2 linked regions of the Homo sapiens genome follow. The gene in region 1 interacts genetically with each later gene. Each region holds a gene or a part of one and is shown on either strand. Other genes may lie near its edges.

Region 1 (3,500 bases):
CTCATGATCTGCCCACCTGGGCCTCCTAAAGTGCTGGGATTACAGGCGTCAGCCACCGCACCCAGCCTTTTTTTTTTTTTTTTTTTTAACAGGGTCTTGCTCTGTCACCCAGGCTGGAGTGCAGTGATGCCGTCACAAATCATTGCAGCCTCAACCTCCTGGGCTCAAGTGATCCTCCCACCTCAGCCTCTCTAGTAGCTGGGACTACAGGCATGCCACCACACCAGGCTAATTTTTTGTAGAGACGAGGTCTCACTTTGTTTCCTACGCTGGTCTCGATCTCTTGGGCTCAAGAGGTCCTCTTGTCTTGGCCTCCCAAAGTGCTGACATTACAGGCGTGAGCCACTGTGCCTAGCTCCACACGCCAGCTTTTTTTTTTTTTTTTTTTTTAATTTTAAGTTCTGGGATACATGTGCAGAACGTGCAGGGTTTGTTACATAGGTATACATGTGCCATGGTAGTTTGCTGCACCCATCAACCCATCATCTAGGTTTGAAGCCCCGCGTGTGTCAGGTATTTGCCTAATGCTCTCCCTCCCCTTGTCCCCCACCCCCCAGGCTCCAGGTTTTATGTCTACATTCCAACCACAAGAAGGGGAAAAAAGGAAAATGGCACCCCTTCTTTTTATTTTTTGAGACGTAGTCTCACTCTGTCTTCCAGGCTGGAGTTCAGTGGCACGATCTCAGCTCACTGCAAGCTCCGCCTCCTGGGTTCACGCCATTCTCCTGCCTCAGCCTCCCGAGTAGCTGGGACTACAGGCGCCCGCCACCACGCCTGACTAATTTTTTGTATTTTTAGTAGAGACGGGGTTTCACCGTGCTAGCCAGGATGGTCTCAATCTCCTGACCTTGTGATCCGCCCGCCTCGGCCTCCCAAAGTGCTGGGATTACAGGCGTGAGCCACCGCGCCCGGCCTCATTTTCTTACCCATGTTGTTTTTGTTCCTGCGCTCCTGTGCCTGTCTGCTGTGCTGAGCTGCAGATGTGTCCTGCCGCGGCTTCGCAGGACAGGGATAAGTTGAGACAGGAAGCAAGAAGCCTTGCCTGTCAGGCTGCCCTTGGCATGACTAGAGTGTATGTGGGGATTTTCACCTCTTATTTTGGGGTCCATTCTGTTCCTTCTTTGAACAATAGTCTTTACAGGATAGGGTGTTTGGGGACAGATTTCATCTTATTTAAGATATAAATAATATAAAATTAACCCACTATAAATTTATTTTTCATTTAAAAAAATTTTTAAAAGACAGGCTCTCACTCTCCCACGCAGGCTAGAATGTGGTGGTATAGTCATAGCTCACTGCAGCCTTGAACTCTTGGGCTCAAGCCATCATCCCACCTCACACTCTTTCCCGGCCGGGCACCCCTTCTTTTTGAGGATACTTCCTGGAAGCTAGTTGCCTACTACACCCCCTCCTACATCCCATGTACCAGAACTGTGGTCATGTGGCATGCTTAGCTGCAAAGGAGAATGGAAAATTCATGCAGGCAGCATGTGGCCAGCTCAATTCACCAGCACTGTCACTGAAGAATGGGAGGCTGTCAGCTGCATATGGGGGCAGTGATTGTGTCTATCTCTTCCCAATGTCTAAAATGGTGCTTGGCACACAGTAGGCACTTAATAAGTATACGTTGAATGGGCCGGGCGCAGTGGCTCATGCCTGTAATCCCAGCACTTTGGGAGGCTGAGGCAGGCGGAACCTGAGGTCAGGAGTTGGAGACCAGCCTGGCCAACATGGTGAAACCCCATCTCTACTAAAAATACACAAATTAGCTGGGATGGTGGTGCACATCTGTAATCCCAGCTACTTGGGAGGCTGAGGCACAAGAATCACTTGAACCCAAGAGGCGGAGGTTGCAGGGAGCCGAGATCATGCCACTGCACTCCAGCCTGGGTGACAGAGACTTTGTCTCAAAAAAAAAAAAGGATATGTTGAATGAATGCATGAGTGGATAGTGGGGAGACCAGGGATCTACTCCAGGATAAACACCACACAGAATGGCCATCAGGATCTGGGAGGATGTAGAGTTTGCAGAGGAAGATAGCCTTGCAGGGACCACAGCACAGTGACGCACGCTCTGGTACCATGGAGCCACTGAGAGCACTGTCGTGGGCAGCAGGCAGACCTGAGTCCAAGTGTGGCTCCACCACTCACTAGCTGTGTGACCTTGGGCAAGCCCCTTACCTCTCTGAGCGTGTACCTGCTCATCAGCTAAAGCAGGGGTCATACCAAATCCTTCTGCCTTACAGGGCTGTTGTGAGGATTACCGAGTGCCTAGCACAGTGCCTGGCCTGCAGTAAGTGCTTTATAAATGTTAAATAATGTTAACTGGTTTTTAGAGGTAAGTGCTGAGTGTTTTGGGGAAACGTAGAGGAGGGGCCTCTAACCTAGCTTTGGAGGCTGTGGAATCAAGGAAGGCTTCCTGACAGAGGGGGCAACCTGTGTTGAGACTTGAGGGACAAATAGTTACACAAGGGAAGAGTGTTCTCCACAAAGGGAACAGCATGTGTGAAGGCCAGAGGTTAGAAAGCACAGGGCCTGCTCAGTATTCAGTGTGGCTGCAAGATGAAGTTGGGGTTAGAATGGGCTGAGAGTGTTTGGAAGTGAGGCTGCAGGGGTCATCAAAGGCCAGGGCCAAGAAGGATGGATTTAGGTGGGATGCAGTGGCTCATGCCTGTAATCCCAGCACTTTGGGAAGCCCAGGCAGGAGGATCACTTGAGCCCAGGAGTTTGAGACCAGCCTGGGCAACATAGTGAGACCTCCATCTCTACAAAAATAAAAATAAGAAAGATGGATTTGGCCAGTAGGAACACGGGACCTGAAGATTTTCAGGCAGGGGAGAGGGAAGACAGGCCGAGCAAAGGAGAGACATCAGAGAGCCAAACCCACCCCATCTATTGGAGAACAAGGCCATGGAGGTCAAAGCAAGTTCTTGTGACCTCATTGGCCGGGGGTGGCTGTTGGGGTGAGGGCAGCCCTGCATGGGACCAAGGGCAGGGCTGGGTATAGGTGAGGATTGGGGTGGGCTGCGACATCACCCCTCCCTCTCCCCTGCCTGCAGCTTCGGGGTGCTGCTGTGGGAGCTGCTGACGGGGGAGGTCCCCTACCGTGAGATCGACGCCTTGGCCGTGGCGTATGGCGTGGCTATGAATAAGCTGACGCTGCCCATTCCCTCCACGTGCCCCGAGCCCTTTGCCCGCCTCCTGGAGGGTGAGCCGGGGCCCCGTGACGAGGGTAGGCTCAGCTTGGAGTGGCAGGGACCTGTGGGCCCAGACCTTTCCCCTTCACACCTATCCATACCAGTGGGCCCAGGAGTGAGGAAGAAGGGGCTGGAACCCACTGGACTCTAAACAGCCTCCCCATGGTTGGCTCCATCCCCCACATCCCAGCCCTTGTTTGGGCCAGGCCCAGAGCTCTCAGGACAACCTGTTAGGATTCCTTGGCCCTGGGATTCCACCTTGATCCTGATTCCACTACCAGCCCCTCCTCGGGGTGCAGGTCC
Region 2 (3,242 bases), on another chromosome or scaffold:
CTTGGCACACTGCAAAGCCTGAGTATTTGTGGATCACGTGATCTGTGCTAGTGACTATCAGGAGTCTGAGATTTGAAGCGATGGATTTCCCAGCATGGTCCCAGCTCCCCACTGATGTGAAAGGTGGTGGTGAGTTAACAGCTGAGCCACCACCTGCTGCCCAACCCCACGTGTCCCACATGGCCGGGCGGTGCTGCGCTAACTCATCTCCCCCTGGATGGAAACGTTTGCGTGGTGACAGCCGATTCTCTTGAGAGTCATTTGCTGCCCATGTTGCTGGGGAGATTCTGCCTCAGGGCCAGGAGTGGTTTGCTCCTCCCACCCCGGGCCCAGGGCTGCTGGTGGGAGGCCCCAGGGAGGAGCAAGGACTCTAATGCTTCGTGTGGTGGGAGCCTCAGGACTTTCCCACGTGCGACAGGCACGTTCCTGGGAGCTCGGTGGGAGGAACCCAGCCACGTTGTGTGCTGCGCAAGGAGCCGGCGGCAGGGAGGGGAAAACGGAAAGACGCAGAGGAGGGCAGGTGACAAGAGGCCCACAGAGAGATGGCTGGGTCTGGGCAGCGGGTGGGAGCAGGAGGGAGGCGGTTATGGGAGACGTGGAGCAGTGGAGGCCGTCAGAAGTGGGGATCACAGCTGTGACCTCATGGAGAGGGACAAGCCCCACAGCTGGGCTGGTGCCAGCTCCACTACCCAGGGCCAACCTGTGTGGCCGTAAAATTCTCAAGCCTGGAGTGTGTAGAAGGCAGCAGTGCCCTGGCCTGGCCACCCGCGAACCCCTCTGTCCACCCCATGCTGCGTGGCACAGGGCAGGCGTGGGGCCTCTAGCTGGAGCCTTGAGTGGGTGGATCCTCGGTGGGGCTTTAAGGCCAACCTGTTTATGAAAATGCATGGGGACTGACTGCAGATGCACAGACAACTCAGATGCACAGACGCCCGGACGACGTGGACACCCAGACGATGTGGACGCACAGACGACATGGACGCACAGACGATGTGGATGCACGGACGACGTAGACACACGGATGACTCATCCACAGATGACTCAGATGCACGGACACCCAGACGACGCGGACGCACAGACGACGCGGACGCACAGATGACGTGGACGCACAGATGACGTGGACGCACGGACGACGTGGATGCATGGACGACGTGGACGCACAGATGACCTGGACGCACGGACGACGTGGACGCACGGATGACTCAGATCCCCAGACGACTCAGATGCACGGACACCCAGATGACATGGATGCACGGACGACTCAGATCCACAGATGACTCAAACGCACAGATGACTGGGATGCTCAGATGACCGCTGCTGTGCTGCCACCCCAGGGCTCTCTGGGCGTTTCCTGTGGTTTGGGCACCAGGAGCCTGGGAGTCCCATGCTGCCCCCAGGGCACTACCTCCTGGGCCCAGCCCTGCATCCGGTGGCAGGGCTCACCGTCATCACCCCAACAGTGCAGGGTGGTCTCAGGGACCTCCTCTCATCATTGCCAAGAACTGGCTCCAGGATGTTTCCATGTGGCCGGCTAGTATGGCCAAAGTGGACCCTGGCGTGCTGTCCCCTTGGACGCCTCCAGGCCCTGCCCAGCACGTGGGGCTCGTCCATTCTGTGCCTGACCATGCTCTGCCATGCGGGGCCTAGCCCAGCCCCCCAGCCCTGCTGCTTCTCCCCACCCCACCCCCGCCACCTCCACCAAGCCACCAGCATCCTGCCTGGCCCTACGGACAGCAGGGTCGTCCTGTGTCCAAAAGCCTCCTCCCCCTCAGCCCCTTCACTCGGGTCTCATGGGGCCCCTCTGTGGCCCCCAGCGCACAAGGCACACACCCACTATGGGGCCTTTGCACAGCTGTGCCCTCCCCAGGCTCCAGCCCTCACCTCCCCCAGGCTATTTCTCAGATGTCCCTTCAGAACTAGAGCCCTTGGGCCCCCAGCCCCATTGACACGGAACGGGCCCCCTGTTGTATCTCAGGTCACTGCTGTGGTTGCAGCCACAGGGGCAACACCTGTTACTGCCACAGCGTCCGACCTGGGGCCAGCGTGCATTCAAACGCACTGCTCTGAGAGGCCAGGACGTCCATGGGTTGGGCGCAGGGGGCGGCGGTGGGAAAAGGTGTCAGGCACCATGGGTCCCGACCTGGAGCCCACGTGCCAGCTGCAGAGATGGGCACTGAAGGCTTTTGAGCAAGAGGAGGAGGTAACGCTGGCCCCTGGGGATGCTGTCAGGGAAACTGAGGCAATCTTGAGCCCTCGGAGCAGAGAACGGGCTGGGCCAGGGGCTGGAGGACCCTGGGCCAGCTCCAGCTGGGTCCTGCTCTGTTCCCACCCCTGCTGCTTATTAAACCCTTGTAAAGCAGCACAGGACTAAGGTAGGGAAAGTACTTTAGGAAATGCCCCTTTTTCACATTTTATCGGCAGGTGTTTCATACAAAGAATACAAGTAACTGATGAATGAAGGGGGCATCTTGTGTCCCCACAATCCTGCTGTGCGCACACCACAGGTGAGCCGTTCTGCCTAAGGGAACAGCCCCGGCCCCTCCCTCCGGCTCCTCCCCAGCACCGTCTCCTCCACCCAGTGGCCTGGCCGTGGATGCTGCCTGTGGCCCAGCTTTGAGACACCGCCCTGACACGTGTCCAGCCTTACGTGGAAGGATTTGTCTGTTTTGTGGCATCCTAGTAGATGCCACGTTAGTAGATGCCATGTTAGTAGAATGGATGTGGGCATTTCTTTGTAAGTTCCCAAAAGCCTATGAGGGTTTTTTCCACGATTCCGTTCCCAGTTTGGCTTTTGTTGTTGTTGTGGCTGTTCTTGGCCCCCCTGGGCCCTGCAGTGGAGTGGGGGGCTGCACCTGGGAGCCTCGAGCTGAGGCCCAGCCCCTCCTGCCCTGCATTTTCCTGCCAAGCAGCACCTGAGACTCTGAAGCCGATGCCTATACAGGCAGAAACCTGCCAATTCCAGCTTGAACGACTGGAGGGTCCTGAGGATGGGGGTCCCTGGGGTGCCATCATGGGCAGGGTGCATCTGTTTGGGTATGCTGCCCCCCAGCTGGCGGGGCACCGGGGACAGGCACAGCCACACTGGGGGCATTTCTGGTCTTGGAAGCCTTCTTGGCTCTTCCGGAGGGAAGGCGGCTGCTGGGTGCCCTGTGATCCACCCGCGAGCTGGGCTGTTCGGCTTGGTCTGCAGGGGCTGGGGGGCTGCATTTCTTTTCACCAGCTGCACCCACCCGGCCCCATCC

Evidence for each region. Genes that interact genetically often act in the same process or in processes that back each other up.
Region 2: changes in MAP3K10 (region 1) and PRKCZ together harm fitness more than expected from each alone (negative genetic interaction), as found in Homo sapiens cells (one large-scale study listed by BioGRID).

Annotation. Positions count from the first base shown.
Region 1 is NC_000019.10:40,201,426-40,204,925, forward strand, and holds part of MAP3K10 (mitogen-activated protein kinase kinase kinase 10), read left to right. Parts: intron 1-3,059; coding exon 3,060-3,208; coding exon of another isoform or gene 3,209-3,232; intron 3,233-3,500. UniProt on the Homo sapiens protein: Activates the JUN N-terminal pathway.
Region 2 is NC_000001.11:2,179,411-2,182,652, forward strand, and holds part of PRKCZ (protein kinase C zeta type), read left to right. Parts: intron 1-903; coding exon of another isoform or gene 904-1,116; exon of another isoform or gene 1,117-3,242. UniProt on the Homo sapiens protein: Calcium- and diacylglycerol-independent serine/threonine-protein kinase that functions in phosphatidylinositol 3-kinase (PI3K) pathway and mitogen-activated protein (MAP) kinase cascade, and is involved in NF-kappa-B activation, mitogenic signaling, cell proliferation, cell polarity, inflammatory response and maintenance of long-term potentiation (LTP).